Homo sapiens: one gene and its partners. The protein of the gene in region 1 purifies or fractionates together with the protein of each later gene. This does not show direct contact. Each region holds a gene or a part of one and is shown on either strand. Other genes may lie near its edges.

Evidence for each region.
Region 2: the proteins of NEGR1 (region 1) and GLMN purify together in Homo sapiens (affinity purification with mass spectrometry; one large-scale study listed by BioGRID and IntAct). This does not show direct contact.
Region 3: the proteins of NEGR1 (region 1) and PLOD1 fractionate together in Homo sapiens (co-fractionation; one large-scale study listed by BioGRID). This does not show direct contact.

What each region holds. Positions count from the first base shown.
Region 1 is NC_000001.11:71,397,411-71,401,064, reverse strand, and holds part of NEGR1 (neuronal growth regulator 1 precursor), read left to right. Parts: 3' UTR 1-3,654. UniProt on the Homo sapiens protein: May be involved in cell-adhesion. May function as a trans-neural growth-promoting factor in regenerative axon sprouting in the mammalian brain.
Region 2 is NC_000001.11:92,260,904-92,264,557, reverse strand, and holds part of GLMN (glomulin), read left to right. Parts: coding exon 1-4; intron 5-825; coding exon 826-935; intron 936-1,631; coding exon 1,632-1,695; intron 1,696-3,654.
Region 3 is NC_000001.11:11,941,096-11,944,749, reverse strand, and holds part of PLOD1 (procollagen-lysine,2-oxoglutarate 5-dioxygenase 1 isoform 2 precursor), read right to left. Parts: intron 229-3,654; coding exon of another isoform or gene 88-228; intron 1-87. UniProt on the Homo sapiens protein: Part of a complex composed of PLOD1, P3H3 and P3H4 that catalyzes hydroxylation of lysine residues in collagen alpha chains and is required for normal assembly and cross-linkling of collagen fibrils.

The DNA of each region.
Region 1 (3,654 bases):
CTCTGCAATGAAGAGACATAATTTTTTTTTCTTTTTCAGAGTTTTGCTCGGTTGCCCTGGATGGAGTGCAGTGGTGTGATCTTGGCTCACTGCAACCTCCGCCTCCTGGGTTCAAGCGATTCTCCTGCATCAGCCTCCCCAGTAGCTGGGATTATAGGCACGTGCCACCACACCTGGCTAAGTTTTGTATTTTTAGTAGAGGTGGGGTTTCACCATGTTGGCCAGTCTGGTCTAGAACTCCTGACCTCAAGTGATCCACTTCCCTCGGCCTCCTAAAGTGCTGGGATTACAGGCGTGAGCCACCGCTCCCAGACGAGATGTAAAATTTTTAAAGCCATTGAATTAAATTCATTGCTAACATTTTGAGCTTTGATAATGTAATGCCTACTTTAATGACCCAAAAAAAAAAAAACCCAAGTAACCTATCTATCTAATAATCTATGTTTTTTAATTACTCCTTTTCTTCCTTATCTCACAAACCATAATCCAATAGTCTAGGACATGTGAAAGAGAAAGTAAACAGTCACAAGAACTACCTTGCTTCGAGAATCCACCTTGTTGAAAAAATAATATATTTTGGGCACTTGTTAAAAAGAATTAACAGAAAAAGTCTTTTTTTTTTTGTCACAGGGGCATTTAATTCATGGTATAACAGGAATTTTATATCAAAAACAGTAAGAAAAATGAAGTAACAGTTGAGATAGCAATAATTCATCAACCAAATACTATGATAATGATAAAAACATTGCAAGAAGCTATAGCCAGAACTGAGTGTTCTGCTCCTACTTAGTGCTAATGAGCCCAGTCCTAGCACACATCTTGGTTTGGTAGAAACTACAGGAGGTAGCATGGTTCATTACACCTTCAAAACTTTAAAATGTTAAAGAGGGTGGTTTCCCTCCTTCATTTCAAATGGATTGCTAAAAGCACTGGGCTATTCCTTGGTGGAAATTTGAATTTGCCAGTTTCTTCATCAATTTTGACTTTTTACATTCAAAAAGGAGTTAACTTTACACTAAGTCACAGCAGACTTAGACCTCCCGCAGTTCTGAATTGTGCTTAAACAAGTATTCAAGCACATGGGGATTTCTCAAGAAAATTTGGGGACCATATCTTAGAAAAAAAACTTACAAAATATTCGTTGAAGACTATAATATGCTAAAGCTAAGGAACAAAATTCTCTTGATTGTTCTAAAAATACCTAGTAAGAGCCACAGAACTCTTCCATAGTTTTCTAAGTAGTTTCATAAGTGTGGATTGTGGTTGCCCTGAAACTTGACATCTCCCTACCAAGTACTTGACAAGTGACCTGGCAAAAATGTGTTCAATAGCTCATTTTTGACATACTCCTTAAGAAATCATTGCCAGAGATTTGAAACTGCTTCAAGCTGATGTCTTTTTCAAAACAAAACACATACTCACACACAAATACAAAATCGCATTGCTATCAGTGATCTGGAAAATAAGCTTGCAAGCTGGCCATGTGGTGTTCTGAATAATTTTTTTAAAGTAGAAGAAGAAATGACAACAGTGCAACCAACAGTTTCTGTTTAAGTTTTATTTGCTAAGACGTTAGCATAAGGAACATCTTGTGATTTAATTAATCAGAAGATGGCACCTGCTGTAAATACTGACATGGAGAAAAGCAGATTTTTAAAAAAATTTGGAATAAATTAATTTCTTGTAATACATTTTTCTTGTTGATAAACAACTAAATTATGCTTTGAAATGTGTTACTGTCTAATAACTTTAAATGTTGACAAGGAGAAAGACTGGGTTTTTTTTTTTACATTTGAATAAGCAATTTTTTTCTGGAAACATATATATTTCTAATTTATAGATAAACTAGTATGTGTGTTCAGAATTCCTGCTCTCTCATTATTCAGGTTTCAAAATGTATTAACAAAGCTTTTATGGTTTTATAATAGACAATTAGATATCTTTCATCAGGTAATGTAAGAACTTGTATAGTGGTATATTAGTCAGTTTTCACACTGCTGATAAAGATATACCCGAGACAGGGCAATATGCAAAAGAAAGAGGTTTTTTTGGACCTACAGTTCCATGTGGCTGGGGAAGCCTCACAATCACAGTGGAAGGTGAAAGGCACGTCTCATATGGCAGCAGACAAGAGAAAAGAGCTTGTGCAGATAAACTCCCCCTTATAAAACCATCAGATCTCATGAGACCCATTCACTATCACAAGAACAGCATGGGAAAGACCTGCTCCCATGATTCAATTACCTCCCACCAAGTCCCTCCCACAATCCGTGGGAATTCCAAATGAGACTTGGGTGGGGACACAGCCAAACCATATCATTCCACCCCTGGTCCCTCCCAAATCTCATGTCCTCACATTTCAAAACCAATCATGCTTTCCCAACAGTCCCTCAAAGTCTTAACTCATTTCAGCACTATCTCAAAAGTCCACAGTCTAAAGTCTCATCTGAGACAAGGCAAGTCTCTTCTGCCTATGAGCAGCCAGTAAAATCAAAAGCAAGTTAGTTACTTCCTAGATGCAATGGAAGTACAGGCATTGGGTAAGCATAGCCATTCCAAGTGGAAGAAATTGGCCAGAACAAAGGGACTACAGGGGCGGTCAAGTCTTAAAGCTCCAAAATGATCTCCTTTGACTCCATTTCTCACATCCAGGTCATGCTGATGCAAGAGGTGGGCTCCCATGGCCTTAGGCAGCTCCGCCTCTGCAGCTTTGCAGGGTATAGCCCTCCTCCTGGCTGCTTTCACCAGCTGGCATTGAGTGTCTGTGCCTTTTCCAGGTGCATGGTGCAAGCTGTTAGTGGATTTATGATTCTGGGATCTGGAGGACAGTGGCCCACTTCTCACAGCTCCACTACGTGGTGTCCCAGTAGGGACTCTGTGTGGGGCTCACTCCACATTTTCCTTCTGCACTGCCCTAGCAGAGGTTCTCCATGAGGAGAACTTCATTCTGGGCATCCAGGCATTTCTATACATCCTCTGAAATTTAGGTGGTGGTTTCCAAGCCTCAATTTTTGACTTCCATGCACCCACAGGCTCAACACCATGTGGAAGCTGCCAAGGCTTGGGGCTTCCACTGTCTGAAGCAACAGCCCAAGCTGTACCTTGGCTTCATTTAAATCATCCTGGGAGCAACTGGGAGGCAGAGCACCAAGTTCCTAGACTGCACATAGCAGAGGGACCCTGGGCCAGGCCCACAAAACCATTTTTTTCCTCCAAAACCTAGGGGCCTGTGATGGCAGGGGCTGCTGCAAAGGTCTCTGACGTGCCCTGGAGACATATTCCCCACTGTCTTGGTGACATTCAGCTCCTCATTACTTATGCAATTTTCTGCAGCCAGCTTGAATTTCTCCTCAGGAAATGGGATTTTCTTTTCTATCACATTTTCAGTCTGTAAATTTTTCAAACTTTTATACTGTTTCCCTTTTAAAACTGAATGCCAGCCAGGTGCACTGGCTCATGCTTGTAATCTCAGCACTTTGGGAGTCTGAGACAGGCAGATCACCTGAGGTCACGAATTTGAGACCAACCTGGCCAACATGATAAAACCCCAACTCTACTAAAAATATAAAAATTAGTGAGGCATGGTGGCACATGCCTGTAATCTCAACTGCTTGGGAGGCTGAAGCAGAAGAATTGCTTGAACCCAGGAGGCAG
Region 2 (3,654 bases), about 21 Mb from region 1:
AAAGGTAAGAACATAGCCAAAGTGTCAATTACCAATTTATTTCGTAGGGTATATTTATTCATATGTAGAATACATTAATGTGAGTTATTGCTCTATCTCTAGTATTACTATTACTTAAATATTATTAAGGCATATTTTTTCCCCTATTTCTACTATGTTTTAAAAACTCTGAATTTGGAAATTTAGTTAACTATAAGTTTAAATTGTATTCTTTGAGGTTTTGGTTTTTGTTTTTGTTTTTTTTGAGACAGGGTTTCACGCCTGTCACCCAGCTTGGAGTGCAGTGGCATGATCTCAGCTCACTGCAGCCTCCACCTCCTGGGCTCAAGCAGTTCTCCCAACTCAGCCTCCCGAGTAATTGGGACTACAGGTGTCCACCAGTGCGCCTGGCTGAATTTTGATTTTGTAGAGATGGAGTTTCACTGTGTTGCCCAGGCTCGTCTTGAACTCCTGATCTCAAGTGATCCACCCACCTTGGCCTCCCAAAATGCTGGGATTACAGGTGTGAGTCATCACTCTGGGCCTCTTTGAGCTGATATTGTGGCTTATTTTTGCTTTGTTATATGCTTCTCAAAAATGAATGGAAACTTAAGTCTCTTCTGTTTCTGAGTGCTCAGTAATTCTAAATGGAAAACAGAGTGACCAGTGTTCTCAAACTGGCAGGGTTCGTTCCTGGTGTCTGGAAAGTGAATGAAAGTACGGAAATTAAAGTTAAAAACTGTATTTTAAATGTGCAATTCTTCATTTTTGTAGTGTCAAGGTATTAGAAAAACACATGAATTACATGAATTATAAAGCTTTCTCAATTTTTCGTTTGCTTTTCAGAGAACACGTAACAACAAATGGTTTACAGGACCACAGTTGATTTCCCTTCTTGATTTGGTACTTTTTCTCCCAGAGGGTGCAGAAACAGATTTACTGCAAAACTCAGATAGGTGAGGTGACCATTACCAAAGTTCACATAGTAAATTCAGAATAAAATGTGAAACATCTGCTTAGGGAACCTAAAGTAATAAAATGTCTTTTCCTGTGATTTTATGATCTATGGCTAATTCATTAAGTTACATAAAGATTTTTCATATTTAAGTGATTTGATAATGTGTAGAAACAAAATTAAAACCTCCTCTTTCTAGATGAATGACCAGCACTATGATTTGATAGCTTTTATGTACCCAGCATTCCATAGAAATTTGCAATGACAGCACTTGTGACTTAAAACTAAAAATCTGTGTATGTAATTTATGTGTTTAGGTTTTGTTGTTTTATTGTTTTCCAGGTCATTTTTTTTTTCATATAGAACATATAATTTCAGTTTCAGTATACTGGAATGGATATTGAGAAATGGTTTAAAGCATTTAAAAAGTAATCTTAAAATTCAGAAAGCAAGAGATGATGCTCTCAAATATTAAAGATAACAAGGCTTTCTTTAAACAAGGATGATAATTTTCACAATTGTATGATTTAAACAAATGGAAAACAGTGATAAGTTATTACTACTCAAAAAGATATTAATGGAAATAGTTTCTATTGGCAAACCTAATTATAAAAATATGACCAAAGTTTTAGCTTATTGAGATTGCTGTTGACTATATAAAACCATACTGTAAGTAACATATATTTTTAATTAACAGGATTATGGCTTCATTAAATTTATTGAGGTATTTGGTTATCAAAGATAATGAAAATGACAATCAAGTAAGTGAAGTATTTGAAAAGAAACTGTGAGTATATTCAAAAGGCATAAGGAATGTTTCAGATATTCAGTACCTAAAGCCAATATTTAATATCTTACCCAGATATAAAGGCCGGGAAGAGTGCCAACAATTATTCTGAAACCTGAAGTTAATTCCCAGGAGCATTTACCACCCCACATCCAGCTTTCCTTTCCCTTTCCATTTCCTATTGTACGTCTGCTTTCTTGCTGAAAGCACTTAGTCCTGTTGGGTGGATAAGTTGCAGGTCCTAAGTCAACTAACCTTGTGGAGCTCAACGTACATATGGTGTCTTGTTCAGTTTCCTCCACCTATAGCTCATGAGCTGTATAAAATCATCTGATATTTTAATATTGCCTCATCAGACATGACAAATTGAAGCATTTTCAGCACTAAAACAGAATTTGTTAACAGCACCTTTTAGATATGTTTAGGAAGTTGGATTTTTTAAAAATAGCACATCATTAGAAGTATTCAATAAATAGAGAAGTATTCAATAAATAGAAAACTATTTGAGGGAGATTTGTCATACAGTAAAATTATATTTGCTTTTTATCTTCTCTTTCTACCCTGTTCTGATCATTGCTTTCCCTATATGTGTCACCTCTATTAGCTAGAACTACCTGAATCATGTGTTGTTAATTGGTTTTTTTTTAGTAATTCATTTTTATATAAAGATGCCAAAGAAAATTTTTTTTAAATTAGGTAAATCGTGATTTGGGATGAAGGTTTATGAGAAAAGTAGCAGTCTCTTTCCTTCCTGACAGATCTATAGTAGATTCAGTGATTTGAACCCCCGTTCATCCCTCTTCAGCTGAAAATAGCTATTTGCCATCATTGACTAGTGCTTACTCTGTATCAGGTGCTATTTTTTTTTAACATTTTGTTGTGAAACTTTTCAAATGTACAGCAAAGTTGAAAGAATTTTATAGTGATCATTGGTTTACCCACCACCTAGAGTCTATGATTCTACTGTACTAACTTCATCATGTATCTATCACTCCACCCTCTGTCTATCACTCCGTCAGTCTATTTTTTGATGTATTTCAAAGTAAACTGCAGACGTCAGCATACTTTCTCCGAAATATTTCAGCATGTATTTCATTACATTGATTAAATATTTGTCTGTAGTTTTTCTTTGAAGTAAAATTTACATAATGAAATGTTCAAATTTTAAGTGTATATTCACTGAATTTTAACTAATACATAGATCTATATTACTCAAACCCATATCAATATAGAACATTTCCAGCATCACAAGAGGTTCCTCATACCCCTTCCTAGTTAATTCTGACCTCGTTGTGCTACTCACCCCTGCCAGGGACAACCACTATTCTGCCCAAGTGCTGTATATCATTCATTCTTCAGAGAGCGTCTCGTTCTCTTGCCCAGGCTGGATTACAGTGGTACAATCATGGCTCACTGCAGCCTCGACCTCCTGGGCTCAAGAGATCCTCCCACCTCGGCCTCCCAAAGTGCTGGGGTAACTTCCAGGCATGGGCCACCATGGAAAACCAAGAAAAGTACTCTTTATTTTTCACTTTTCATAGATAATGTAGGTGAAAAAAGTTCATTAACTTGCACAAGGGCAAACATCTGGAAAGTGGTAGAAATAGCTATGACCCCAGGCAGTGGCCAGAACTTTCTAAATCACAAACTAAATCCTGATTCCTGAAGGAGCTTGTGATAAAAATTGAAAAGCTACAATATAAAATTCAGCAGCAGTAGAGGCCCTGAGACTTCAGGAAGGTGGCCTTAGGGTAGGGTATGAGTTTTTATTTTTTTAGTAATCAAGAAAGGCTGTACCTACTTGAGAGATTATCTGACTTGCCTGACAAAAAGAAAAGGAATCTTGTTGATTAGGATTGATAGGTGTGTTAGATATGGAACACAGAGTAATACAAAGGCAGCAGATTGGTCTCTGCTTAGAGAGGGAAGACCT
Region 3 (3,654 bases), about 59 Mb from region 1:
AGCAGGGATTGGCAGGGATTAGCTGCGGTGCTGGGGGAGGAGGGGGTGGATACACCAGGCAGGTGTGGGAAGGAGAGGCCTCACTACCTGAACCTGGGATCCAGAAACGAGGGATGCTGCTCACACTTGGGGAAGGGCTCCCCCGAGCTCCTGCCAGGACGGTGAAGTCTCTCCCCAGGTGAAGAGAACCAGAGCCACCAGCTCTGAGGCCCTCTTGGCAACAGGGGGCTGCTGGGGACAGGAAGAGTGTCACATTTCATGGATGGAAAAAGCCAGCGTGAGAGCATGTGAGTGAGTGTGTGTGTGTGTGTGTGTGTGTGTGTGTGTACGCGTGCATGCGCAATTCAGGATTCTTGATGGAACAGGCTCTTGAACTCCAGCAGCAGGGGTGGGGGAAGGGGATGGGGTGGCGTGGCTCAAAGCCCCTTTCTCAGGTTCCTGCTTCTCAATAACAGCAACAATAATGGCTTACCTTCATCGAGCATTTTCTGTGTGCCAGACACAATTTTTTTTTTTTGAGACAGAGTCTCGCTCTGTCACCCAGGCTGGAGTGCAGTGGCTAGATCTTGTCTCACTACAACCTCTATCTCCTGGGTTCAAGCGATTCTCATGCCTCAGCCTCCTAAATAGTTGGGATTACAGGTGCCGGCCACCACGCCCAGCTAATTTTTTGTATTTTTAGTAGAGATGGGGTTTCACCATGTTGGCCAGGCTGGTCGCAAACTCATGACCTCAGGTGATCTGCCTGCCTCAGCTTCCCAAAGTGCTGGATTACAGGCATGAGCCACCGTGCCCAGCCAATGCTGTTCCAAGCACTTCACACATACTAACCCCCGACTTTCCAGTTAGGAAACCAAGGGTACAGCTGGCGAGTAATGTGCCCAAGGGAGCTAGGAAGCAGCAGCACCAGGACTTGGACACAAGCCTGAACCCAGAGTCTCCTCTCTTAACCTAAATGCATGCACTGCCCAGCCAGGGACGGTGGCCAGGCCATCTGTTGAGAGGGCCCTGTCTCTCTATCTATGTAAGGGAGCTGTCTAGCTGTGCCCTCCCCACATGCCCACTTTCCTCCCTATAACCTGTCTATTCCCTGTTTTCCAGGGAAACAGTGCTGCTGAGAGCCCACACTGGGACCTTAACCCCCAGGTTCCGTGGCCAGGCGTGGTGACTCACGCCTGTAATCGCAGCACTTTGAGAGGCTGAGGCAGGTGGATCACCTGAGGTCAGGAGTTTGAGAGCAGCCTGGTCAACATGGTGAAACCCTGTCTCTACTAAGAATACAAAAATTAGCCGGGCGTGGTGGCACATGCCTGTAATCCCAACTACTCGTGAGGCTCAGGCAAGAGAATCGCTTGAACCCGGGAGGTGGCGGCTGCAGTGAGCAGAGACTGTGCCATTGCAGTCCGGCCTGGGCGACAAGAACAAAACTCTGTCTCAAAAAAAAAAAAAGAAAGAAAAAAAAAGCCGGGCACGGTGGCTCATGCCTATAATCCTAGCACTTTGGGAGGCCAAGGCAGGTGGATCATGAGATCAGGAGTTCAAGACCAGCCTGGCCAACATGGTGAAACCCCATCTTTACTAAAAATACAAAAATTAGCTAGGCATGGTGGTGGGCGGGAGCCTGTAATCCCAGCTACTCGGGAGGTGGAGGCAGAGAACTGCTTGAACCCAGGGGGCAGAGATTGCAGTGAGCCGAGATAATGCCACTGCACTCTAGCCTGGGTGACAGAGCAAGTCTCCATCTCAAAAACAAAAACAAAAAACAAAAAACCAAACAAACAAAAAAAACTCCCGGGTTCCTTGGGCCACGCAGAGCCTGCCTCTCTGGTTGAGGATCCCACGTGATTGTCCAGTTCAGAGGGTCCCAAACCTGCCCACACATCAGCATCACAAGAGAGGTTGTGGAATCCAGGCTCCTAGGCCCCAGGGCTAGGGGTCTGAGGTGGGCCCAGGAGTCTGGATTTTTCCTACCTTTCCCAGGTGATTTCTGATGTCAGCCACATTTGGGAATCACTGGTCCAATCCATCCCCTTGGTCCGCTGACACTGGGCTGCAATGCAGGGGTCTGGGAGGCGGTTCACAACAAGAGAACTGAAGGCAAGCCCTCCAACAAGAGACCCTGGCATGACCTCCTAACATCCCCAAGGAAACAGCCTCAGTAAACCCAGCCTGCACCCCATTCCCTTGACCTGTCTGCAACACACATTCCTTCCCCTAAAGAGGCCTCCAGTCTACCTCCTCCAGGAAGCCCTCCTTAATCTCATCCCATGTGGTCACTCCTTTGCACGTGCAGTCTTGGTTTGCCCAGTAGTTGACGTATTGGTACAAACCTGCTCCTTCTCCCTCTGCCAGGCCAGGGCCACATCTTTATTTCCTTGGTCTCCCTCTCCCTCACCATGGCTGGGACTGGGCATGACCAAGACACACTGTACATTCTGGCCTTAAGCAGCTACGTGAGGCCTGACACAGTGGCTCACACCTGTAATCCCAGCACTTTGGGAAGTGAGGGGAAGCTGAGGCAGGCAGATCAGTTGAGATCAGAAATTTGAGACCAGCCTGGCCAACATGGTGAAACCCCGTCTCTACTAAAAATACAAAAATTAGCTAGACGTGGTGGCAAGAGCCTGTAGTCCCAGCTACTCAGAAGGCTGAGGCACGAGAATTGCTTGAACCCAGGAGGCAGAGGTTGCAGTGAGCCAGGGTTGTGCCACTGTACTCCAGCCTGGGCAACAGGGTGAAACTCTGTCTCAAAAAAAAAAAAAAAGGCCGGGCACAGTGGCTCACACACCTGTAATCCCAGCACTTTGGGAGGCCAAGGTGGACAGATCACCTGAGGTCAGGAATTCAAGTCCCACCTGGCCAACATGGCAAAACCCCGTCTCTACTAAAAATACAAAAATTAGCCAGGCAGTGGTGCATATTACATACTGCAAGTTATACGGTGGTGCATGTAATCCCAGCTACTAGTCCGGGCGCGGTGGCTCACGCCTGTTATCCTAGCACTTTGAGAGGCCTAGGCGGGCGGATCACCTGAGGTCAGGAGTTTGAGACCAGCCTAACCAATGTGATGAAACCCCGTCTCTACTAAAAATACAAAAAAAATTTAGCTGGGCATGGTGGCAGGCGCCTATAATCCCTGCTATTCAGGAGGCTGAGATAGGAGAATTGCTTGACCCAGGAGGCAGAGGTTGCAATGAGCCCAGATTGTGCCATTGCACTCTAGCCTGGGCAACAAAAGTGAAACTCCATCTCAAAAATAATAATAATAATAATAATAATAATCCCAGCTACTTAGGAGACTAAGGCAGGAGAATCACTTGAAACCAGGAGGCAGAGGTTGCAGTGAGCCAAGATTGTGCCACTGCACCCCAGCCCGGGTGACAGAGTGAAACTCTGTCTCAAAAAAAAAAGCAGCAACATGGAAGGTACTTTTGTACTTTTGTGGTGCCACTGCACTCTAGCCTGGGTGACAGAGCAAGTCTCCCTCTCAAAAACAAAAAACAAAAAACAAAACAAACAAACAAAGTACTTTTAGGAACAGCTACCACCACTGAACCCGGTGAGATACCGTGTGCTGTATGAGGCATGTTACATTCATTATCTTATTTCACGGTCAACACTCTACGAGGAAGGTGATATTTTTATCACTGCTTC